Linked DNA regions of Homo sapiens: all the other regions are linked to region 2. The links come from fine-mapping of genetic effects on gene expression. A gene starts in region 2. Each other region holds a variant in brackets. All regions are shown on one strand. Distances are from middle to middle.

Region 1 (4,086 bases), 40 kb after region 2:
ACACCCAGCTAATTTTTATATTTTTAGTAGAGATGGGTTTTCACCATGTTGGCCAGGCTGGTCTTGAACTCCTGACCTCGTGATCCACCCACCTCAGCCTCCCAAAGTGCTGGGATTACATGCGTAAGCCACCGCTCCTGGCCGACTCTGCCATTGTCTAGCGAAGTCTCCGTCCCTCCCGTGGGGCAGTGATGGACTTTGGCTTAGGTAGTGGGTGGCAGCAGCCTTCATTTCTTTCTTGCCGACTGTGCCAGGCACCGGTGTTAGCAACACAGAAAGAGTAATGCATCATCTGACCTCACTCCTGAACCTGACTCTGCTGCGGCATTATTCTGATTTTACCAGTGGGGAAACTGAGGCACAAGAGGTTGCATTTGCCTGGGCTGGTCGCAGGGGGCCAGGGCTCTGAGTCATTGGGTTCGAGGCTTTCGGCTGCATGTCCTCACTGCAGGCTCACAAGGCCTGAGTCATAGAACCAAGGCCAGCGGGGCCCTCAGGTTGCCAGGAGCTGGGCCTGTTAGTAGCTGTGTGTAGGGAGTGCCTGCTTGCAGGATCCTGAGGTGGGAAGCTTGGCAGGGTGCCGGGCGTGGTGATAGCCAGCTGTCGGGAAGGTCCTTGGACACTCTGAGGAGGTGGCTTAGGAGGGCACACTACTCCCCAGGCAGTGCCCAGATCATGGCACGGGCTGCGTTATCAGCCTGGTGCCCACCTGGGCAGGGGGTGTTGCCTCACCTGATTTGGTTTCTTGCTCCTGTCACTGCACAGTGAGCGGTCGCTCCTTCTTTTACAACACAGAAACGGAATCCACAGGAGCCGGGCTGCTGGCCCAAGGCCTCTCCCAGAGCCTGTGGGACTGTGGGGACCCCCTTCCCTCCCACCTCCCTTCCCGTGGGCCACCCTCGCCCCAGGCCCACCCACAACCACTCTGGCTTCCTCACTCTAGTCCTCGGCGATCCTCAAGCCCAAGACCCCGTATAGGTTCTGTGGGTCTGTGGTGTCTGCAAAGTGCAGATGATGAAGTAGCCCTGGAAATCCACCAATGCGACCCTGAGTTCCTGGATCCCTCCCTGGGGCTGGGGCTGACAAAGGGAGGGGCACCAAGGTTCATATGCAGATCTCTGCACATGCAGGTCCTTGATGAATTCCAAAGTCAGAACCCCATTCCATCACGTGATTTACAAAGCATGGTTACAGATCATGGACATGGGGACCCTGCTTCAGAGGGGACTGTAAAGGAATTTTCAGAGTGTTTATGGCATAAATGAGACCTGGGGGACTTAGGAAGCAGTCAGAGGGCGATGGTCACACTGAAGAGCCCAGAGCAGGGCTGAGCGTGCAGACTCCTAGGAACCAGGTCAGTGTGCTTGGCCCTACCAGCCTCTAAGCCGCCTTGCAGGGGAGGAGGAAGGGAAACCTCAGGCTGCTAGGAGACCCGGTCCTTCCCTCGGGAGCCTGCAGAGATGGCATCCACGCTCATTTTCCCCAAGAGCCCTGCTGCGTCTGCCTCCCTGCCTTGGACTGAGGGGGTTGGGGCTGCCCAGCAGAGGCCCTGGGTGCCAGGACAGTGGTGTGGGAGGCTGGAGGAAGGGGTGATTGTCTAATGGTGTGAGGGAATGAAAGTCATGATCTAGATAAAGACCAAGGGGAGGGGTGAGCCTGGGACAGGGTTTTCCAGGGAGTGAGAGCAGATGGGCATGTGCAAAGGCCCTGCACACGCAGGAGGGAGCTTGGCGCGGTGAGGCTGGAGGAGCTGTGGAGGGGCACATCAGGGGCCGGCGTCTTCTGAGCAGCCTGGGAAAGCCTGAAGGGCATTAGTTGGGGTGACCATGCTCCTGTGGGCCAAGTCACCCTGGACCCAGTGAGGAGAGTGGTTGGAGCAGGCTGGTGGGAGCTGGTGGGAGGGCTGGTGACATGATGGTGGTAGCAAGCACGTGCAGGGGCTGGCGGGGACAGCAGCGGAGGCGGGGGCTTGGTGACGATGGGCGTGCAGGTCTTCAGATGTGAGCAGTTGCAGGCCTTCCGGGTAGTAGATGGAGGGCAGAGGCAGAGAGGTCACGGCTCACCCTTTGCCTCCTTGACTTCATCGATAGCATGGTGTGGGCAGCCCCGGTCGAGCTGGAATCAGGCGCCACCGTTGCTTTCAGTAGGAGGAGGTCAGCCTCAGAGGCTTCTCCATGCTGAGCCACGGGGCCCCGTTCTGTCCTGGAGCTGGGCTGAGCGACAGACCCAGGCTTGACGCTGTCAGACCCCCTGTGAACCCCGCCCCACATCTCAGAATCCTCTTGGCTCCTTTGTCTGGGGTCCCGGGATGACTTGGGTCTGCCTCACTTTCGGAGAGGGGACCAGGAGCACATGGGGCTGCACAAGAGGTTGAGGCAAGCGACCTACCCCCCAGGCCCTGCTGCCTCACCGATGTTCGCCACCCATCCTGCTCTGGGCAGCGCTCATCCACCTTGGTGGCCCAGTTAACAGCGAGTCGTGAATGGGCACTGGGGGTCCTCTGGGTGCTGGGTGGCTTTCC[A/G]CCTAATGGCCGCCCTTCCCCCCACAGCACCAGGAGCAGCACTCGGAGGGCCGCAGTGCCCCCTCTAGCGAGCCGCACCTCATCTTTGTGTACGAGGACCGGCAGATCCTGGAGGACGCAGCAGCGCTCATCAGCTACTACGTGAAGCGGCAGCCGGCCATCCAGAAGGAGGACCAGGGCACCATCCACCAGCTGCTGCACCAGTTCGTGCCCAGCCTCTTCTTCTCTCAGCAGCTGGACCTGGGCGCCTCCGAGGAGTCAGCTGATGAGGACCGGGACAGCCCCCAGGGGCAGACCACAGACCCCAGTGAGCGGAAGAAGCCGGCGCCAGGACCCCACAGTAGCCCCCCAGAGGAGAAGGGGGCCTTCGGGGATGCCCCGGCCACTGAGCAGCCACCCCTGCCGCCCCCAGCCCCGCACAAGCCCCTGGACGATGTCTACAGCCTATTTTTTGCCAACAACAACTGGTACTTCTTCCTGCGCCTGCACCAGACCCTGTGCTCCAGGCTGCTGAAGATCTACCGCCAGGCGCAGAAGCAGCTTCTGGAGTATCGGACCGAGAAGGAGCGGGAGAAGCTGCTGTGTGAGGGCCGCAGGGAGAAGGGCAGCGACCCCGCCATGGAGCTGCGGCTGAAGCAGCCCAGTAAGGCTCCAAAGCCTGCCGGGAGGCCCCGGGGGGTGCCTGGGGTTAGGGGTCACAGCTCATGATCTGACATGTCCTGTTACTTTTCTTTCTGGCTTTTCATTTTAAGAGAATTCTGTGATTTCAAATGGGAAATTGCAAACAGGAAGTTGCCAGCATAAGACAGAGGTCTCACGTACCCCTCGCCCAGGCTCCCCTGGCCGTGGCACCTGTCCTGGGTGTAGCACCCTCTCCTGACTGGGGAACATTTGTTTCTCATGGGCTTTCTCGTGGAGCCGTCATGGCCCAGCTCCACAGTACCCTTTTTCTTTCTTTTTTTTTTTTTTTGAGATGGAGTCTTGCGCTGTTGCGCAGGCTGGAGTATAGTGGCAGGATCTCGGCCCACTGCAACCTCCACTTCCCAGGTTCAAGTGATTCTCCTGCCTTAGCCTCCCAAGTAGCTGGGATTACAGGCGCTCACCACCATGCCTGGCTCATTTTTTGTATTTCTTTTTTGAAATGGAGTCTTGCTCTATTGCCCAGCCTGGAGCACAGTGGCATGATCTCGGCTCACTGCAGCCTCCGCCTCCCAGGTTCAAGCAATTCTCTGCCTCAGCCTCTGAGTAGCTGGGATTACAGGCACCCACCACCATGTCCGGTTATTTTTTTTTTGTATTTTTAGTGGAGACGAGGTTTCACCATCTTGACCAGGCTGGTCTTAAAACTCCTGACCTTGTGATCCACCTGCCTCGGGCTTCCAAAGTGATGGGATTACAGGCATGAGCCACCGCGCCCAGCCCAATTTTTTGTATTTTTAATAGAGACAGGATTTCACCATGTTGGCCAACCTGGTCTCAAACTCCTGAACTCAGGTGATCCGCCTGCCTCAGCCTCCCCAAGTGCTGGGATTACAGGCATGGGCCACCATGCCTGGCCTCCACAG
Region 2 (4,086 bases):
TTGTGTGATTACTAGATTCCTGTCTATCCTGAGAGACTAAAAGCTCTTAACGGCCAAATTTGCGTTCCTTTTTACCATTCTATTCCTGACACTTAGCAAGGTGCCTGGTAAATGATGCACTCGATGCCAATTTACTCTCAACTTTCCTGCACCTCTTCACTTATAAAAAGAGAAAGCACTTGGTCATTAATTGAACGTTCACTTATTTGATGAATGCTGACTGAGAGACTGTGTCAGGGATTTGTATTAGAGACGGACACAAAACAAATATGAAATACAAGGGACTGAGGGGAGACATAGAAGGGGACTGGGAACACTTCCTGAGGGAAAGGGATATTTGGGCTGCGTTTAGAAGGATGTATAGGTGTTTTCTGAATAACAAAGAGGCATGACAGTACTTCTGGCAAAGGAAATGGTGAGTGCCAATGCTTGGGACCAGGAAGCAGCCAGGTTGGTCAGGCAATTGTGTGAAGTTCTGCACAGAGGCAGGCAGTTTGCTTGGAAAATCCTGCAGGAAAAGGTTCCTAAGGACCAATTCTGACAGCCTGCAATGTAGGTGCTTAGATTTCATCTCATTAGAAATAGGAAGACCTTGGAGGTTTGGAAGGAGTGGTGGAAAAAGTGGAGTTTTTTGTTTTTCTGTTTTTTTTTTTTTAAGAGATGAGATGCTCTTTAAAAAAAAAAAAAAAAAAAAGCACTGCTATGCTTCCCAGGCTGGGGTGTGCAGTGGCAAGATCATGGCTCACTGCAGCCTTGAACTCTTGGGCATGAGCAATCCTGCCTCAGCCTCCCGAGTAGCTGGGACTAAACGTGTGCACCACCACGCCCAGCTAATTTTTTCATTTTATTTTATTATTTAATTAATTAATTAATTAATTTTTTGAGACAGAGTTTTTGCTCTTGTTGCCCAGGCTGGAGTGCAATGGCGTGATCTTGGCTCACTGCAACCTCCGCCTCCCGGGTTCAAGCAATTCTCTTGCCTCAGCCTCCCGAGTAGCTGGGATTACAGGCATGCGCCACAAAGCCCGGCTAATTTTGTATTTTTAGTAGAGACGGGGTTTCTCCATGTTGGTCAGGCTAATCTCCAACTCCAGACCTCAGGTGATCTGCCCGCCTCGGCGTCCCAAAGTGCTGGGATTACAGGCGTGAGCCACGGCGCCCAGCCAATTTTTTCATTTTCTTTTTCTTTTTTTCAAGGCCCGGCTAATTTTTTGTATTTTTAGTAGAGACGGGGTTGCACCGTGTTAGCCAGGATGGTCTCTATCTCCTGACCTCGTGATCCGTCCGCCTCGGCCTCCCAAAGTGCTGGGATTACAGGCGTGAGCCACCATCCCCAGCCTAGAGTTCTTGATAGTATCAGGGCTGAGAAAGTACCAGAGTTAGAGCCAGGTGGGGTGGCACTAAAAGTACAAAAAATTAGCAGGGCGCAGTGGCGGGCGCCTGTAGTCCCAGCTACTCAGGAGGCTGAGGCAGGAGAATGGTGTGAACTCGGGAGGCGGAGCTTGCAGTGAGCGGAAATCGCGCCACTGCACTCCAGCCTGGGCGACAGAGCGAGACTCTGTCTCAAAAAAAAAAAAAAAAAAAAAAAAAAAAAAAGAAAGTACCAGAGTTAGGAGGCTCCTAAACTGGTCCAGATGGGAAGTGACGGGGCCAAGGATAGGGAAGTGAAGATGGGAGGAGTAGGACTAACTTAAAGGCCATTTAGCAAAAATTCACCACGCAAGGCCCTATATTAGGGCGCTGGGGGCTCATACCTCATCGTCCCGTCAACTCTATAAAGCAGGGGCCAACAAACTTTTTCCATAAAAGGCCAGATCGTAAATACTTCAGGGTCTGCAGATCTGTAGGATCTTTAGCAACTACCTACTCTGTTGTAAGGCGAAAGCAGGCAGAGAAGCCAGGTAAACGCGTGGGCGTGTCTGTGTGCTAATAAAACTTTATTCAGGGACCCTCAAATGTGAATTTCACAAACTTTTCACAGGTCATAGACTATTCTTCTTTGGATTTTTCCCCCGGCTATGTAAACATGTAAAAATAATTCTGAGCTTGCGGGGCCGGACAAAGTAGGCGGCGGGTCTTGGCTCGCCTACCCCTGCTATATAAATCATTAATTATGATACCAATCTTAAGGAGAAGGTCTTCAGAAGAGTCCCTCAAAGAGCACCGCCCCTCAACGTCATCAAACCCCGCCTCCAAAGGCGGAGGCTGCGCATGCGCGGCAGGACCTCGGGCGGGGGCGGGGCGGGGCGCAGCTCCGACTTCGGACATGGCGCACGCTGGCGGTGGCAGCGGTGGCAGCGGTGCCGGCGGCCCCGCGGGCCGGGGGCTGAGCGGCGCCCGCTGGGGTCGCTCGGGCTCCGCAGGCCACGAGAAGCTGCCGGTGCACGTGAGTGGCGTCCCCGCCCTCCCTCGGGGAACCCATCTTCTGGACCCCGCGGGCGGGCGCCCCTCACCCAGGCCCCGCCCGGCCCCAGCCCCACCTCGGCCTCCCCTCTGCACTGCCCCGGACCCCTCACCCCTCACCTCTCACCTCGGCCCTCCGAAAGCCCAGCCCATCCCCTTCCCCTCAGGGACCCCGGCCCCTCGTCCCCTCGTTCCGCGGCCAGGGCCCACCGGGACCCTCCCCCTCTCTGCAGGTAGAAGACGCCCTCACCTATCTGGACCAGGTGAAGATCCGCTTTGGCAGCGACCCTGCCACCTACAACGGCTTCCTGGAGATCATGAAGGAGTTCAAAAGCCAGAGGTACCAGCGGGGCCCCTCTCCACCTCAGGGGACCCCCCTGGGCCGGAATCGGGCCTAGCGGGGTGAGACCTCCCCTCTCCAGCCTGCCCCCTTAGCCGGGTGACCTTGCGCAGGTTGTCCAATCTCTCAGAGCCCTAGCTCCTTCTCGTAACAAAAATGGAAATGGGTAGTACCCACCTTGTGGAGCTTTGTGGGGATTCCTGGAAGCAGGACAGGGATCTGGGGGGAGGCAGGGAGGGCGAGGCCGTGCACACTCATAGAGTCAAATCCTGCCTTGATTTAATATGTTGATTTTTATATTAGTTTTGTTCATGAAAGATTTGGTGGGACCCATTTTGATTTTTATTTTCAAGCGCTGTAAAATGTTATTGTCTTGATGATTGAAATTTTTGGCACCCTCTTCCCCTTTAATCTTGTCCTCAAGATGCTTCTCTGGGCTCACTGTGGTCCCAGGCCTGCTTGGAAGTAAGACGCATAAAATGCTTAGTAAGGGAGCTGGCACACAGAAAACGTTTAAAACACATGAGATGATTTTGCAGGCCCAGAATCAAGGAAGATTACAGATAGATGGGAAACCCTGGGATCATGCCCTTGTTTTTATAGGAGACTCACTGAGGTTTGGAGTGGGTAAGGGACCCACCTAAGTGGCAGAGGTGTCACTAGAACTCAGACCCTCTGACTCAGATTCTTGGAAGTCACATGCTTACCATACTGCTGCCCCCTCTTAGGAAACATGGTGGGGCTGGCCTGGTTTCCTTCCGGGAGCCCAGTGCTAAGGGCTGGGCTGCAATGCAGCCAGAAGGGAGACCCCATCTCTCCCCTCCTATTTTTCTTACACCTTTCCCATTCTTGGCAGTACCATTGGTATTTATGCATTGCAATTGTTTGCTCAGATGGAAACCTGTGTCATAGTCATCTCTATCTGATACAAAATGAGGGAAGTTTTCACATTGCTTAGAGGACTTTGGCCTCCTGCCATTTCTTGGAGTCCAGGCCTTGCGGTTGGCTCTCCTGACATTTTCAGAACCGAGTACCCATTCTTGGAGTGTTTTAGGGGAGCTGAGCGATGTCAGTATTCTCTGGTTCTCACCAGGAGGGAACAGGGAGCTCAGGCCTAGCCAGTCAGGAGATAGGTCATGGTGTACAGATGCTATCACATGGGGGCACTTTTTTTTTTTTTTTTGAGATGGATTCTCGTGCTGTCGCCCAGGCTGGAGTGCAGTGGTGTGATCTGGGCTCACTGCAGCCTCCGCCTCCCGGGTGCAAGTGATTCTTGTGCCTCTGCCTCCTGAGTAGCTGGGACTGCAGGCACGCACCACCACTCCAAGTTCGTTTTTGTATTT
Region 3 (4,086 bases), 110 kb before region 2:
GTTTTTTTTGTAGAGACGGGGTTTCACCGTGTTAGCCAGGATGGTCTTGATCTCCTGACCTCGTGATCTGCCTGCCTTGGCCTCCCAAAGTGCTGGGATTACTAGCGTGAGCCACCATGCCCGGGTGATTTGTGAGTTTTTGAGACAAAGTCTTGCTCTGTCGCCCAGGCTGCAGTGCAGTGGCAGGATCTCGGCTCATTGCAACCTCCAACTCCCAGGTTCAAACAATTCTTGTGCCTCAGCCTCCCAAGTAGCTGGGATTACAGGCATGCGTCACCACGCCCAGCTAATTTTTCTATTTTTAGTAGAGATAGGGGTCTCACCATATTGGCCAGTCTGGTCTTGAATGCCTGACCTCAGGTGATCCGCCTGCCTCGGCCTCCCAAAGTGCTGGGATTACAGGCATGAGCCACCGTGCCCGGTCTTGGAGTTTTAATGGTAATTAATCATGGCTAACATCTCACGGGCCCTTCCTGTGATGTAGGTGTAGTGTTAGTCTCACTCTCTATATAAATGCTTTTCATTGTCTCACCAACACAGGAAGTTAGTGAGAAAATTCAAGTGCAGAGTAGTGAAGCGTCACAGGCAAGGGACTTCACCTTTCTGCATCTTGTTTTCTTCATCTGTGAAACAGGATCATAATGTCTGTCTCTTGGGGTAATAATGTGGACTGCTAATGCCAAATGCCAACCAACTGCACCTCCTAGACTGTCAGCAAATGGCATCTTTTACGAGGAGCCGTATCAGCCTGGCACACAATAGTTAACCACTAAGTCTGGGCTGAATGCCCGGCTAAGCTGGTGCCCTAGTGCAAACAATCGCTTTCATTATCCCAGTTGCTGGGAGAATTGGGCAAGGAGAGACCCATAAAATACCTAAGACGAAAGTTACTAGGATAGCCAGGGGCTTGTCTTCCGGGTGGCGCCGAGGCCAGGAAACTGTCCTCTCTAACCTATTTCCCCAGAGGAGTCTAAATTGGTCGTTCAACTACCAGCAAAGGCTAAAGAGAGGCTGGAGCCCCCAGGACAGCCAGAACGCTGACACTGCAAAGGGCCTCTGTCCTTACTGGGGAAGCCCAGTCCTGCTCAGCTGTCTTCTTCAGCAACAAACAGAAGTCCAGAAAGAGAAACAGTTGTGGAGGAAGCTGTTGTGATGATAATTTACTGAGCACCTACTATGTGCCAGGCACGCCAGCCTTACCAGACAAGATCCTTGGGCTCATGGAATTCACTTTCTCGTGGGACAGACAAACAATAACATGTAGAAACATATCAGCTGTTGGTGAGTACCATGCAGAAAATTAAAATAAGGCGATGGCATTGGGAGTGACTTAAGGGGTCACTACGCAATGGGATGGTCAGAGACAGCCTCTCAGGAGGAGGTAGCATTGAAGCTAAAATGTGAACAACATGAACAGATGCAGCATAGAGCACTAAAGTACAGGACGTGCAAAGGCCCTGAGGTTGAAATAAGCTAAATGCATTAGACTAGGGGGTTCTCGAGTAAGGGGAATTCTGCCCCCTAGGGGACATTGCAATGTCTAGGGAGACTTTTTTTTTTTTGAGACGGAGTCTCGCTCTGTCACTAGGCTGGAGTGCAGTGGCGTGATCTCAGTTACTGCAAGCTCTGCCTCCCAGGTTCACACCATTCTCCTGCCTCAGCCTCCTGAGTAGCTGGGACTACAGGTGTCCGCCACATGCCCGGCTAATTTTTTGTATTTT[T/C]AGTAGAGACGGGGTTTCACCGTGTTAGCCAGGATGGTCTCGATCTCCTGACCTCATGATCTGCCCTCCTCGGCTTCCCAAAGTGCTGGGATTACAGGCGTGAGCCACCGCACCTGGCCGAGACTTTTTCTTTTTGAGATGGAGCCTTGCTCTGTTGCCCAGGCTGGAGCGCAGTGGCACGATCTCGGCTCACTGCAACCTCTGCTTCCCGGGTTCAAGCGATTCTCCTGCCTCAGGCTTCCGAGTAGCTGGGATTACAGGTACATGCCACCGCGCCAGCTAATTTTTGTATTTTTAGTAGAGATGGGGTTTCGCCATGTTGGCCAGGCTGGTCTCGAACTCCTGGCCTCAAGTAATCTGCCTGTTTTGGCCTCTCAAAGTGCTGGGATTAGAGGTGTGAGCCACTGCACCCAGCCTAGGGATACTTTTTAATTGTGACGACTTTGGTGGTGGTGGTGGGGGTGTGCTGTTGAAATCTAGTGGGTGGGGGCCGGAAATGCTTTGCAACATCCTAAAATGCATGGGACAATTGCCACCACAGAGGATGATCTGGCCTCAAATGTTTGTCATACTGAGATGGAGGAAGTCTGGGAGAGAGACTAGGAAAAAGCCTAGAGGTGAAAGGCAAGGTCAAAGACTCTTATCCTCCTGCGATCATCAGCAGGCAGTAACCAAGGGAGCGTGGCCAGGCGCTGAAGTGAATTCGGGTCCAAGGAGCCTGCTGGGACCCAGGAAAACGAGAGAAGGAACAGAAATTGTGGTGGAGGCAAATTCAAGATCAGAAGATTGGGGAGGAGGTGCTAAGAGAGGTCTGGAGAGATGCTGGGACCCAGAACTGGGGCCTCAGTGAGATCAGCAGGCTGCAGCTAAACTGTGGTATCCAGGTGAGTTGTGGGAAGGTGGCTGGGGGGCCGGGCTGGGTTTATGGGGGCGGGGTCCGTGGAGGAGAGGGGGTCTGACCCGCACTCGCTCCCTGACTCTGCCCTTCTAGCTGGTGAGAAAGTTCTCACTCTAAGCTGCAGTTTTCTCATCTGTTGAATGGTGACGCTCAACTCTATTTACTGGGCCTTTACTGCTGAGAAAATAATTAACTCTGGCTGCCCGTGGTGGCTCATGCCTCTAATCCCAGCACTTTGGGAGGCTGAGGCAGGAGGATGGCTTGAGGCCAAGAGTTCAAGAACAGCCTGAGCAACACAGTGAGACTCCCGTCCCTACAAAAAATAAAAAACTTAAGCCTAGCATGGTGGCACATGCCTATAGTTCCAGCTACTTGAGACGCCGAGGCAGGAGGATGGTTTGAGTCCAGGAGTTCAAGGCTGCAGTGAGCTATGATCATGTCACTGCACTCTAATCTGGGCAATGGAGTGAGACCCTGTCTCTTGAAAAAAACAACAACAACAACAACAACTAAAAAACTAGCTAGGCATGGTGGTGTGTGCCTGTTAATCCCAGCTACTCAGGAGGCTGAGGTGGGAGGATCACTTGAGGACAGGAGATGGAGGCTGCAGTGAGCCACAATAGTGCCACTGCACTCCAGCCTGGGCGACAGAGCAAGACTTGACTTTTTTTTTTTTTGAGACGGTCTTGCTCTGTCACCCAGGATGGAGTGCAATGGTGCGATCTCAGCTCACTGCAATGTCCGTTTCCTGGGTTCAAACAATTCTCCTGCCTCAGCCTCCCTGAGTAGCTGGGATTACAGGCATGAACCATCACGCCCAGCTAATTTTGTATTTTTAGTAGAGGCGGGGTTTCTCCATGTTGGCCAGGCTGGTCTCAAACTCCTGACCTCAGGCGATCCGCCCACCTTGGCCTCCCAAAGTGCTGGGATTACAGATGTGAGCCACTGTGCCTGGCCGACCCTCACTCTTAAAAAAGAATTAACTCAGCAGGCCTGAGTTGTCCATACCCCACACATTAAAGCTGTAGCTCTTGACCTGCTCCTGGGAAGTGACCTCTAAGCCCTTGGAATGGGATAAGGGTGTCTTTGTTTACCTGGAGAGCCTTGGCTCACACTAGATACTAACAACATGACTTAGAGAGGGAGCTTTAAGTCACGTGATATTGGTTGACCTCTGGAGGGGCTGGGGATTAAGGTCAGCTATGCTGGTGGTCAATCATGTCTACGTGACCAACTCCCAATAAAAACCCCGGACACCAAGGCTCAGGAGAGCTTTCCTAGTTGGTGGCAAACTGTTCATGTTGTCACACATCACTGCTGGGAGATTTAAGTGCTGGCCATACAACTTCACTGGGAGGGGACGACTGAAATCTCACACCTGGTCTCTTCTGGACCCTGCCTTGGATGCCTCTTCCTGTGCCTGATCTTATTTTATTTTTTGAGGCAGAGTCTCTCTCTGTTGCCCAG
Region 4 (4,086 bases), 81 kb before region 2:
CTAGGAGGCGGAGATTGCAGTGAACCAAGATTGTACCACTGTACTTCAGTCTGGGTGACAGAGTGAGACCCCGTATCAAACAAACAAACAAAGAAACAACATAAACAGTTGGCCGGGTGCGGTGGCTCATGCCTGTAATCCCAGCACTTTGGAAGGCTGAGGCAGACGGATCACGAGGTCAGGAGTTCAAGACCAGCCTGGCCAAAATAGTGAAACTCTGTCTCTACTAAAATTACAAAAATTAGCTGGGCATGGTGGTGCACACCTGTAGTCCCAGCTACTCGGGAGGCTGAGGCAGGAGAATCACTTGAACCCGGGAGGCAGCGGTTGTAGTGAGCTGAGATCGCACCACTGCACTCCAGCCTGGCAGCAGAGCAAGACTCTGTCTAAAAACAAAAAACAAAAAACAACAAAAAAAAACAGTCGATGAACACATATTTTGCATGTTCTATCTATCATATCCTGTTTTCTTACAATCAAGTAAGCTAGAGAAAAGAAAATGTTATTACAAAAATCACAAGGAAGAGAAAATATGTTTGCTGTTGATTAAACATAAGTGGATCATCAGTCACAAAGGTCTTCATCCTCATCATCTTCACCTTGAGTAGGAAGAGGAGGGGTTGGTCTTGCTGTCTCAGGGGTGGCAGAGGCAGAAGAAACTTGACCTGTGTAGTTCAAGCCCATGTTCTTCAATGGCCAACACTGTGTCATGTAACTTCCACCTCTGTCTAGTTCCAAGATATTTTCTTTTTCTTTCTTTTTTTTTTTTTTTGAGATGGAGTCTTGCTCTATTGTCCAGGCTGGAGTGTAGTGGTGCGATCTCAGCTCACTCCAACCTCTGCTTCCCAGGTTCAAGCAATTCTCCTGCCTCAGCCTCCTAAGTTGCTGGGATTACAGGCATGCGCCACCTCGCCTGGCTAATTTTTGTATTTTTAGTAGAGACGGGGTTTCCCCATGTTGCTCAGGCTGGTCTCGAACTCCTGACCTCTTGATCGGCCCGCCTTGGCCTCCCAAAGTGCTGGGATTACAGGTATGAGCACCCGCGCCTGGCTGACATTTTCTTTTTATTTATTTATTTATTTATTTATTTATTTATTTATTTAATTTTTTTTGAGACAAGGTCTTACTCTGTTGCCCAGGCTGGAGTGCAGTGGCACGATCACGGCTCAGTGTGGCCTCCAGCTCCTGGGGTCAAGCAATCCTCCCACCTCAGCCTTCCCAGTAGCTGGGACCGCAGTCACACGCCATCACAGGTGGCTAACTTATTTTTTGTAGAGACGGGGTTTTGCCGTTTTGCACAGGCTGGTCTCGAACTCCTGAGCTCAAGTGATCGTCCAGCCTCTGCCTCCCAAAGTGCTGAGATTACAGGCATGAACTACACCTGGCCCTCCAAGACATTTTCATCACCTCAAAAGAAGCTCTACCCATTAAACACTCCCCATCTCCCCTCTCCCAGCGCAGGCAACCATCAATCTGCTTTCTGTCTCTATTAATTTGCCTGTTCTGGACATTTCATGTCAATGGAATCTCACACTACATGGCCTTTTGTGTCTGGCTTCTCTCACTTGGCATCATATTTTTGAGGTTCATCCACATTTTAACACCTGTGAGTACTTCATCCATTTCAATGGCCGAATAGTATCCCATTGTGTGGAAGGACCATATTTTGTTTATCCATTCATCTGTTGATGGATGTTTGTTTTGATTTGTTTTGTTTTTGAGATGGAGTCTCGCTCTGTTGCACAGGCTGAAGTGCAGTGACATGATCTTGGCTCACTGCAACCTTTGCCTCCCGGGTTCAAGTGATTCTCCTGTCTTAGCCTCTTGAGTAGTTGGGATTACAGGCGTGCGGCATCACGCTGGGCTAATTTTTGTATTTTTAGTAGTGACAAGGTTTCACCATGTTGGCCAGGCTGGTCTCAAACTCCTGACTTCAGGTGATCTGCCCACCTTGGCCTCCCAAAGTGCTGGGATTACAGGCATGAGACCCCATGTCCAGCCCGTTGATGGATGTTTGGATTGTTTCTGTCTTTTGGCTATTGTGAATGGTGCTGTTACAAGCTAGGGTGTATTAATATTTGTTGGAGTCTCTGTTTTCAGGTATTTTCAGCAGATACCTGGGAGTGGAATTGCTGGGCGTGATAGTAACTCCATGTTTCACTTTTTGAGGATGACAGCATTGTTTTACAGTGTGACTGCTCCTCACATGGGACCTCTGTGTTGCCTACCCTGAGGGGTCTTTGATTAATAATGGCTAAATCAGGCCGGGCGCAGTGGCTCACGCCTGTAATCCCAGCACTTTGGGAGGCCGAGGTTGAATTGCTTGAGCTCAGTAGTTGGAGACCAGCTTGGGCAACATAGTAAGACCCCATCTCTACAAAAAATACAAAAATTAGCCAGGCGTGCTAGTGCATGCCTGTAATCCCAGCTACTCGGGAGGCTGAGGTGGAAGGATCGCTTGAGCCTAGGAGGCGGAGGTTGCAGTGAGCTAAGATCGCGCCACTCCACTCCAGCCTGGGTGACAGAGTGAGACCCTGTCTCAATAATAATAATAA[T/G]AAGAAGAAGAATAAGAGTAATGGCTTAACTAGTGTAACTCTGGGTGCAGTCCCTGGACCAGCAAGCCTTGGCTTGTTGCAAATGCAAACTCCGGGGCCCCACTCAGATCTGCTGAATCACTTCTGGAGGTGGGGTCCAGCCATGTGGGTCTTTTCGAGACCCCCAGGTCAGACTCTGGTGCACGTTAATCTTGAGAACCAATGCACATCCCCCAACAACAGGTCTCCCAGCAACCCCATTTAGGTCAGCTGCTGACCCAATAATGACCACACTTCCTTCCCACCTTCCCCACTTTGGCAGTCATTGAGTGGGAGATAGAGCGGAGCCTGCTGAGCTCAGAGGACCGGGAACAGGGAGCCACCGTCTTCCTTAGAGAGATCCAAGACCTCCACAAACACATCCTTGAAGACTGCGCCCTTAGGATGGTGGACCGGCTCGCGGATGGCTGCCTGGACGCTGATGCCCAGAACCTTCTCAGCAGCCTCAAAAGTCACATCACTGACATGCACCCAGGGGTCCTCAAGACCCACCGCCTGCCGTGGAGCCGCGACTTGGTGAACCCCAAGAACAAGACTCACGCCTGCTACCTGAAGGAGCTGGGTGAGCAGTTTGTGGTGAGGGCCAATCACCAGGTCCTCACACGCCTCCGTGAGCTGGATACGGCCGGACAGGAGTTGGCGTGGCTCTACCAAGAGATCCGCCACCACCTTTGGCAGAGCTCGGAGGTCATTCAGACCTTCTGCGGACGCCAGGAACTCCTGGCCCGGCTTGGGCAGCAGCTCAGGCACGATGACAGCAAGCAGCACACCCCCCTGGTACTCTTTGGGCCCCCAGGCATTGGAAAGACAGCCCTGATGTGCAAGCTGGCTGAGCAGATGCCAAGGCTGCTGGGGCACAAGACAGTGACCGTCCTGCGGCTGCTGGGGACGTCACAAATGAGCTCAGATGCCCGTGGCCTGCTGAAGAGCATCTGCTTCCAGGTGTGCCTGGCCTATGGGCTGCCCTTGCCCCCTGCCCAGGTTCTGGACGCCCACACCAGGGTGGTCCAGTTTTTCCATACCCTCCTCCACACTGTCTCTTGCAGAAACTTCGAGTCTCTCGTGCTCCTGCTGGATGCTATGGATGACCTGGACTCTGTCCGCCATGCTCGGAGGGTTCCCTGGCTGCCTCTCAACTGCCCCCCGAGGGTGCACCTCATCCTCTCAGCTTGCTCGGGGGCACTGGGGGTTTTGGACACCTTGCAGCGGGTGCTCCTGGACCCGGAGGCCTACTGGGAGGTGAAGCCCCTTTCCGGAAACCAAGGCCAGCAGATGATCCAACTCCTGCTGGCAGCTGCAAGGAGGACGCTGAGCCCGGTGCACACAGATTTGCTCTGGGCCAGCCTCCCAGAGTGTGGGAACCCAGGGCGGCTGAGGCTGGCGTTTGAGGAAGCCCGGAAATGGGCCTCTTTCACCGTGCCTGTCCCGCTGGCCACCACCGCAGAGGAAGCCACGCACCAACTCTGCACCCGCCTGGAGCAGACACACGGGC
Region 5 (4,070 bases), 58 kb after region 2:
CTCCCAAAGTGCAGGGATTACAGGCGTGAACCACCTCACCCAGCCCAGAACTCTTCCATCTTGCAAAACTGAAACACTGTGGCCTTAAGCACTCACTCCCCAATCCCCCTCCCCCAGCCTCTGGCACCCCCCAACCCATTCTACTTCCTGTCTCTATGGAGGTGACCACTCCAGGGACCTCCCATGAGTGGAATGACTCAGGATTTGTCTTTCCGTGACCGGCTTATTTCCCTCAGCATAATGTCCTCAAGATTCATCCACAATGTAGCATATGTCAGAATTCCCTTACTTTTTAAGGCTGCCTTTTTTTTTTTTTTTTTTTTTTTTTTTGGCAGAGTTTCACTCTGTCACCCGGGTGGGAGTGCAGTGGTGCAATCACAGCTCACTGCAGCCTCGACCTCCTGGGCTCAAGCAATCTTCCCACCTCATTTTTTGATTTTTTGTAGAGACAAGATTTCACTATGTTGCCCAGGCTGGTCTTGAACTCCTGAGCCCAAGCGATCCCTCTACCTCGGCCTCCCAAAGCACTGGGATTACAGGCATGAGCCACCACTCTGAAACAGCCCGGCCTGGCTGTCTGCCCTTTTTAAGAAAATAAGATTTTGGCCGGGCGTGGTGGCTCACGCCTGTAATCCCAGCACTTCGGGAGGCTGAGGCGGGTGGATCACCTGAGGTCAGGAGTTTGAGACCTGCCTGGCCAACATGATGAAACCTCGTTTCTACCAAAAATACAAAAATTAGCCAGGCATGGTGGCGGGTGCCTATAATCCCAGCTGCTCGGGAGGCTGAAGCAGGAGAATCGCTTGAATCCAGGAAGCAGAGGTTGCAGTGAGCCGAAATGGCACCATTGCACCTTCAGCCTGGGCAACAAGAGCGAACCTCCATCTCTAAATAAAAAATATTTTGGCCAGGTGCAGTGGCTCATGCCTATAATCCTAGTGCTTTGGGAGGCTGAGGCAGGTGGGTCACCTGAGGTCAGGAGTTTGAGACCAGCCTGGCCAACACGACGAAACTCCGCCTCTACTAAAAATACACAAAATTAGCCGGGCATAGTGGCAGGCGCCTGTAATCCCTGCTGCTGGGGAGGCTGAGGCAGGAGAATTGCTTGAATCCAGGAAGCAGAGGTTGCAGTGAGCTGAGATTGCGCCATTGCACTCCAGCCTGGGCGACTGATCGAGACTCCATCTTAAAAAAAAAAAAAGTTTTTATGGAAAGTAACACAGTGCACAGAAAACTCCAACAGTACAAAACAGACACATGGTTTCCTCTCCTCCAAAGCTGTCGCGCCCAGCGTCCTCCGGGAAGTACCTGGGCAGTGTCGCCTGGGTACAGCTTGTGCCTGACAGGGGCAATGTCATCGTCACCTCTGCTTGCTGGGGTTCCCCCGACAGCCTGTGCTGCCGTGTTGTTCCCGGGGAGGGGCTGTTGGCGGGCACCTCCCTGCTTTGTGCTGCTGTGTGGATATCCTCCCAAGGACATCTTCCTGTGCGTGTGTCTGGCAGAAATTCCTAGACATGGAACCCTTGAGTATAAGGGCATGTGCGTCACTATGTTTTTTTTTTTTTTTTGAGACGCGTTTCACTCTTGTTGCCCAGGCTGGAGTGAGGCTGGAGTGCAATGATGCAATCTCGGCTCACTGCAACCTTTGCCTCCCATGTTCAAGTGATTCTCCTGCCTCGCCTCCCGAGCAGCTGGGATTACAGGCATATGTCACCA[T/C]GCCTAGCTAATTTTGTATTTTTACTAGAGATGGGGTTTCTCCATGTTAGTCAGGCTGGTCTCGAACTCCCAACCTCAGGTGATCCACCCGCCTCTGCCTCCCAAAGTGCTGGGATTACAGGTGTGAGCCACTGTGCCTGGCTTTTTTTTTTTTTTTTTTTTTTTTTTGAGTCGGAGTCTCGCTCCGTTGCCCAGGCTGGAGTGCAGTGGTGTGATCTCAGCTCACTGTAACCCCTGCGTCCTGGGTTCAAGAGATTTTCCTGCCTCAGCCTCCTGAGGAGCTAGGACTACAGACGTGCGCCACCATGTCTGGCTAATTTTTGTATTTTTAGTAGAGACGGGTTTTCACCATGTTGGCCAGGACGGTCTCGATCTCTTGACCTCGTGATCCACCCACCTGGCCTCCCAAAGTGCTGGGATTACAGGCGTGAGCCATTGCGCCCGGTCGTGCATCACTATTTTGATGCATCATCTTCAAACCACCCTGCCCCAGCATCACTGGACTGCCGGTGTGCCCAGCCTCCCCTGCACAGCTTCCCACTCTGCTCACAGAGAAGACGGTGGAGGGGGGAGCCCAGGCGTGGGTTTTCCGTGTGCTGAGGGTGTCCTCAGCCACCTTTTTCCCCAAGTCATTGACGTGAAGCTGATTTTCTCATTGGTGGCCATGGAAACTGCCCAGAAATGGGAGCAGGGCCTCTGAGACCCTGCCCCAGCTAGACTCTCTCTCCAGGCTTCAGTGTCTCCTCCTGGAGCTGGGTGTTGACTCTGTCCAAGACTCTGCTCAGTCACTTCCTGGCTGATCCCCGAGTGCTCAAGTGTGTGATGAGATTAGGGCTCCCCCAGGCAGGAAACGGCCACATTGGACCCCTCCCTCCCCCATCCCTAGTTCATTTTATTTTCCCCAATCCTCATGGCTCCCAACTAGGCCCTCCTGCTCCCAGACCCCCCCAAGCCCTGTCCCCCATCCCCTGTAGCCCAGCGCTGAGCACACTGGGGCCAGAACCACCCATACCAGACTCCCCCAGGGCACGACGGGTTGAGGCCTCTCTGAGGCAGGGAGGGACAACACTGAGGGGCCTTGTGCAGAAGAGGGAAGGGGTACCCCCCCGAGCTTCAGTTTCTTCATCTGCCCGATGAGCCCCCATCCAATGGTACCCAGGAGTGGGGATGTGCTGGGGCTAGAGGAGGGAGGCCCCCTGGAGGCTGGCTTGGGGACCCTTCAACCTGGCCACCTCACTCAGGGTCAGAGGTCAGAGCAGGCGAGCCACACACCCCGAAGTCCCCCCGGTCCTCGGCAGGTGCTGTCCCCAGCATCACTGTCTCCCCTACAGATGCCCGTGTGTCCCCTGGGCAAGAGTGAAGTGAGGCACTCATACAGGGGTGCCTTGTGAGTATGGGGTCAGCCGAGGATGCTGAGGGGCTCTCGAGGTTCAGCCAGAGTCCCTGACGCTGGGCTCGTGCTGCTCTGGGGGTCTGAAGGGACCCTCGCTATTACCCTCTGGGAGGCGCCCATCCTTGGTTTTTTTTTTTTTTTTTGCCGAGTCTCGCTCTGTTGCCCAGGCTGGAGTGCAGTGGCAAGATCTCGGCTCACTGCAACCTCCACCTCCTGGGTTCAAGCAATTCTCCCACCTCAGCCTCCTGAGTAGCTGGGACCACAGGCATCTGCCACCAAGCCCAGCTAATTTTTGTATTTTTATGAGAGATGGGGTTTCTCCATGTTGGTCAGGCCGGTCTCAAACTCCCAACCTCAGGTGATTTGCCTGCCTTGGCCTCCCAAAATGTTGGGATTACAGCCGTGAGCCACCGTGCCTGGCCTAGCAGGGCTCTTCTTATCCTGCTCACCAGAGATAGGAAGTCGGGGGGTGACTTCAGGAAAGGCCCAGAGCCCGTGATGGGCGTGGGGATTGGGGTGAGGACAGGGCTGTCGTGAGAACAGTGGCTGCAGATGTGAGCGGCTGGCAGGAAGTGGCCACTTGAACCGCAGATGCTTCCTGGGCTGGTCAGGGACCGGGGGTGCTGGCTGCAGCTGGGACCCCCCCCCCTGCATCTTGCTGGCCTGGCACCTGGGTCCCTGGGAGGCGCCACACTGGATATAGCCACGTGGGGCAGCCCGGTCTCCATAACCCACACTCCAGTCCTCCCACGGGCTGGCTGGCAAGCGGCCCTGGTGGGTCTGCGGGGGCAGGGGCAGCCTTCCTGGTTTATCTCTACCGGCGCGATCTGCTCGTCCGCCTCGGCTCCAGAAGCTGGGGCTCAGGGTCCGGCGAGGCAGGAAGCCTGAGGCCACAGCCCAGAGCAGCCTGAGTGCAGTCATGTGGGGGCGACTGCTCCTGTGGCCCCTGGTGCTGGGGTTC
Region 6 (4,086 bases), 27 kb before region 2:
AACAAAGTCACTATTTGGGACTTGGCAGAAGGTTGGTAAGGTATAAGTATGGTCATTTTTGTGGGTAAGGCTTGGAGCCATCTGTCTTAGTTTAGGCTACTGTAACAAATCATCCCCACAGGCTGGGCCCCATGGCTCACGCCTGTAATCCCAGGACTTTGGGAGGCCTTGGCGGGTGGATCACCTGAGGTCAGGAGTTCAAGACCAGCCTGGCCAACATGGCAAAACCCTGTCTCTACTAAAAATACAAAAGTTAGCCGGGCATGGTGGCACATGCCTGTATCCCCAGCTACTTGCGAGGCTGAGGCAGAATTGTTTGAACCTGGGAGGCGAAGACTGCAGTGAGCCGGGATCCTGACTCTGCACTCCGGCCTGGGCGACAGAGTGAGACTCTGTCCCAGAAAAATAAAATAAAATAAATTATCCCCATAGACTGGGTGGCATAAGCAAGAAACATTATTCCTCAACATTCTGGAGGCTGGGAAGTTCCAGATCAAAGTGCAAGCAGATCTCGTGTCTGGTGAGGACCCGTTTCCTGGTTCACAGATGGCCATCTTCTTGATGTGTCCCCAGAGAGAGAGAGAAATCTCTTGTGTCTCTTCTTATAAGGGCACTAATCCTATTCAGGAACGCCCCACATTCATGATCTAATCACTTCCCTGTCACTCTGCTACAGTTCGGAGGTTTGGCCCTACAAACCAGATGTTGGCATTTAATATCCGGCTGGCCATGGTGGCTTAAACCTATAATCACAGCACTCTGGGAGGCCGAGGCAGTAGGATTGTTTGAGCTTAGGGTTCAAGAACACCTGGGCAAGATGAGAGGATGCCATTTCTACTAAAAATTTAAAAAATAGCTGGATGTGGCCAGTCATGGTGGGTCACACCTCTAATACCAGCACTTTGGGAGGCCAAGGCAGGCAGATCACTTGAGGTCGGGAGTTCGAGACCAGCCTGACCAACATGGAAAAACCCCACCTCCACTAAAGCAATACAAAATTAGCTGGGCGTGGTGGTGCATGCCTGTAATCCCAGCTACTCAGGAGGCTGAGGCAGAAGAATAGCTTGAACCTGGGAGGCAGAGGTTGCAGTGAGCCGAGATCACGCCATTGCACTCCAGCCTGGGCAACAAGAGCAAAACTCTGTCTCAAAAAAAAAATTAGCTGGATATGGTGGCATGTGCTTGTTGTTCTAGCTATTTTGGGGGCTAAGGTGGGAGGATCGCTTGAGCCTGGGAAGTTGAGGCTACAGTGAGTCATGATCGCACTACTGCACTCCAGCCTGGGTGACAGAGTGAGACCCTGTCTCTAAAAACAAACAAAAAAGCCAGGCGTGATGGCTCACACCTGTGATCCCAGCACTTTGGGTGGCTGAGGTGGGCGGATCACTTGAGCTCAGGAGTTTGAGACCAGACGTCTCTACATAAAAGACAAAAATTAGCTCGGTGTAGTGGCTCACATCTGTAGTCCAAGCTACTTGGGAGGCTGTGGTGGTAGGATCACTTGAGCCCAGGAGGCAGAAGTTGCAGTGAGCTGAGATTGTGCCACTGCACTCCAGCCTGGACGACAGAACAAGACCCTGTTTGAAAACAAAACAACAATAAAAAAAGAAATTTAATCCCCAGTGTTGGAGGGAGGCCTCACGGGAGGTGTTTGAGTCATAAGGACACATCCCTCGTGGATAGATTAATGCCCTCTCCTGGCAAGGCAGTGGTGGTGGTGAGTAAGTTCT[A/T]ACTCTGTTAGTTCTCGCGAGGTTGTTAAAAAGAACCTGACCCCAGCTACTCAGGAGGCAGAAACAGGAAGATTGCTTGAGGCCGGGAGTTCAAGACCAGCCTGGGCAACATGGACCTTGTCGCAATAAAAATAAAAATAATGGCCGGGCATGGTGGCTCACGCCTGTAGTCCCAGCACTTTGGGAGGCTGAGTTGGGTGGATCACGAGGTCAGGAGCTCAAGACTAGCCTGGCCAACATGGTGAAACCCCATCTCTACTAAAAATACAAAAATTAGCCGGACGTGGTGGCGGGCACCTGTAATCCCAGCTGTTCAGGAGGGAGGCAGGAGAATCGCTTGAGCCCGGCAGGCAGAGGTTGCATTGAGCACCATTGCACTCCAGCCTGGGTGACAGAGCAAGACTCTGTCTCAAAAATAAATAAATAAATAAAAATAAAAATAAAAATAATGAGCTGGGCATGGTGATATTCACCTGTAGTCTCAGCTACTTGAGAGATGGAGGCAGGATGATCGCTTGAGCCCAGGAATTTGAGGCTGCAGTGAACTGTGATTGCACCACTGCACTCCAGCCTAGGTGACAGAGCAAGACCCTATCTCAATTAAAAAAAAAAAAAAAAAAAAAAGGAAGCTAGCACTTCCCTCTCTCTTGCTTCCTCTGGCCGTATGACCTCTGCACACCCCAACCCCCTTCACCTTTTGTATTAAGAAGAAGCAGCCTGGGGCCCTCACCAGAAGCAGAAGCTGGCACCATGCTTCCTGTACAGCCTGCAGAACAATGAGCCACATAAACCTCTTATTCATAATTATGCATTACTGTATTAGTCTGTTCTCACACTGCTAATAAAGACATACCTGAGGCCGGGCCTGCTGGCTCACACCTGTAATCCCAGCACTTTGGGAGGCCAAGGCAGGCGCATCATTTGAGGTCAGGTGTTCGAGACTAGCCTGGCCAACATGGTAAAACCCTGTCTCTACTAAAATTCCAAAACTTAGCCAGAAATCGCTTGAACCCAGGAGGTGGCAATTGCAGTGAGCCAAGATCTTGCTACTGCACTCCAGCCTGGGCAAGAGTCAGACTCTGTCTCAAAAAAAAAAAAAAAAAAGACATACCTGAGACTGGGTAATTTGTAAAGGAAAGAGGTTTAATGGACTCACATTTGCACATGGCTGGGAAGGCCTCACAATCATGGCAGAAGGCAAATGAGGAGCAAAGTCACGTCTTACATGGTGGCAGGCAAGAGAGTGTGTGCAGGGGAATTGCCCTTTACAAAACCATCAGATCTCATGAGACTTATTCGCTACCACAAGAACAGTATGGGGGAGACTGCCTCCATGATTCAATTATCTCCAGCTGGCCTCGGCCTTGACCTGTGGGAATTATTGCAATTCAAAATGAGATTTGGGTGGGGACACAGCCAAACCATCTCAGTTACCCAGCCTCAGGTAGTCCTTCATAGCAACACCAACAGACTTAGACAGGCCCCAGCTCCTAATACCATCCTATGGGGAGTGAGGATTTTGACATAGGAATTTGGTGGGGGGGTGGGGACACAAATCTTCAGTCCATAACATTCCTATAACTTCAATCAGGTAGAAAGTAGCTAGTCAAAAACAGGTTTTCATTAGCAACACCAATGAACTAAGACAGGCCCAAGCTCCTGATACCATTCCACAGAGGGTGATGATTTTAACATAGGAATTTGTCAGGGGGACACAAATCTTCAGTCCATAACACGCCTATAACTTCAATCAGGTGGAAACTAGCTAGTCATGGCCAGGTGTGGTGGCTCACACCTGTAATCCCAGAACTTTGGGAGGCTGAGGTGGGCGGATCATTTGAGGTCAGGAGTTGGAGACCAGCCTGGCCAACATGGCGAAACCCCAACTCTACTTAAAAAAAAAAAAAAAAAAAATTATCTGGGCGTGGTGGTGTGTGCCTGTAATCCCAGCTACTGGGGAGGCTGAGGCAGGATAATTGCTTGAACCTGGGAGGTGGAGGCTGCAGTGAGCCAAGACCATGCCACTGCACTCCAGCTTTGGCAACAGAGTGAGACTCCACCACCCGAAAAAAAAAAGAAAAAGAAAGTAGCTGGTCAAAAACAGGATTTCATTTTATACATTTTCTGCATGAGGTAGTTGGCAATCTGGTTGTTTCCGTTTGGCCTGTTTTAATTCAGGTTACCTAGAAGCTGAATCTGTGATGAGGATATTTGCACAAGTGATGTATTGAGGGGTGTTTCCAGGAGAACCCCAGAGGGAGATGAGAAAATGGGGCTGGCGGGGGAAAGGGTTGAGCAAGAATGCAGGCTCAGCTAAAGTCCCTCTCAGCATCATTCCATGGGGAGCCCTGGAAGA

What was found. PIP is the estimated chance that this variant, and not a neighbour inherited with it, causes the effect.
Region 1: its variant is fine-mapped to the expression of SIN3B in whole blood (TOPMed, PIP above 0.99).
Region 3: its variant is fine-mapped to the expression of SIN3B in whole blood (TOPMed, PIP 0.98).
Region 4: its variant is fine-mapped to the expression of SIN3B in whole blood (INTERVAL, PIP above 0.99).
Region 5: its variant is fine-mapped to the expression of SIN3B in whole blood (TOPMed, PIP above 0.99).
Region 6: its variant is fine-mapped to the expression of SIN3B in whole blood (INTERVAL, PIP above 0.99).

Annotation. Positions count from the first base shown.
Region 1 is chr19:16,866,912-16,870,997 of GRCh38, forward strand. SIN3B (SIN3 transcription regulator family member B) reads left to right here. Exons shown (of 19, transcript NM_001297595.2): 13 at 2,549-3,164. Among named protein-coding and RNA genes, the nearest start is that of F2RL3, 20 kb to the right of the region's middle. The variant A/G (reference allele first, on the strand shown) is at 2,522.
Region 2 is chr19:16,827,155-16,831,240 of GRCh38, forward strand. It overlaps SIN3B (SIN3 transcription regulator family member B), which reads left to right and starts at 2,244. Exons shown (of 19, transcript NM_001297595.2): 1 at 2,244-2,386; 2 at 2,637-2,743. The coding sequence starts at 2,267. RefSeq lists an enhancer at 1,970-2,471 and a silencer at 2,212-2,391.
Region 3 is chr19:16,719,013-16,723,098 of GRCh38, forward strand. It overlaps NWD1 (NACHT and WD repeat domain containing 1), which reads left to right and starts at 835. Exons shown (of 19, transcript NM_001007525.5): 1 at 835-1,281. The variant T/C (reference allele first, on the strand shown) is at 1,722.
Region 4 is chr19:16,746,283-16,750,368 of GRCh38, forward strand. It overlaps NWD1 (NACHT and WD repeat domain containing 1), which reads left to right. Exons shown (of 19, transcript NM_001007525.5): 6 at 2,857-4,086. Among named protein-coding and RNA genes, the nearest start is that of NWD1, 28 kb to the left of the region's middle. The variant T/G (reference allele first, on the strand shown) is at 2,556.
Region 5 is chr19:16,885,162-16,889,231 of GRCh38, forward strand. It overlaps F2RL3 (F2R like thrombin or trypsin receptor 3), which reads left to right and starts at 3,838. Exons shown (of 2, transcript NM_003950.4): 1 at 3,838-4,070. The coding sequence starts at 4,029. RefSeq lists an enhancer at 922-1,422. The variant T/C (reference allele first, on the strand shown) is at 1,717.
Region 6 is chr19:16,800,132-16,804,217 of GRCh38, forward strand. It overlaps NWD1 (NACHT and WD repeat domain containing 1), which reads left to right. Exons shown (of 19, transcript NM_001007525.5): 17 at 1-31. All of the region lies in intron 2 of LOC124904648 (a long non-coding RNA gene), which reads right to left. Among named protein-coding and RNA genes, the nearest start is that of SIN3B, 27 kb to the right of the region's middle. The variant A/T (reference allele first, on the strand shown) is at 1,731.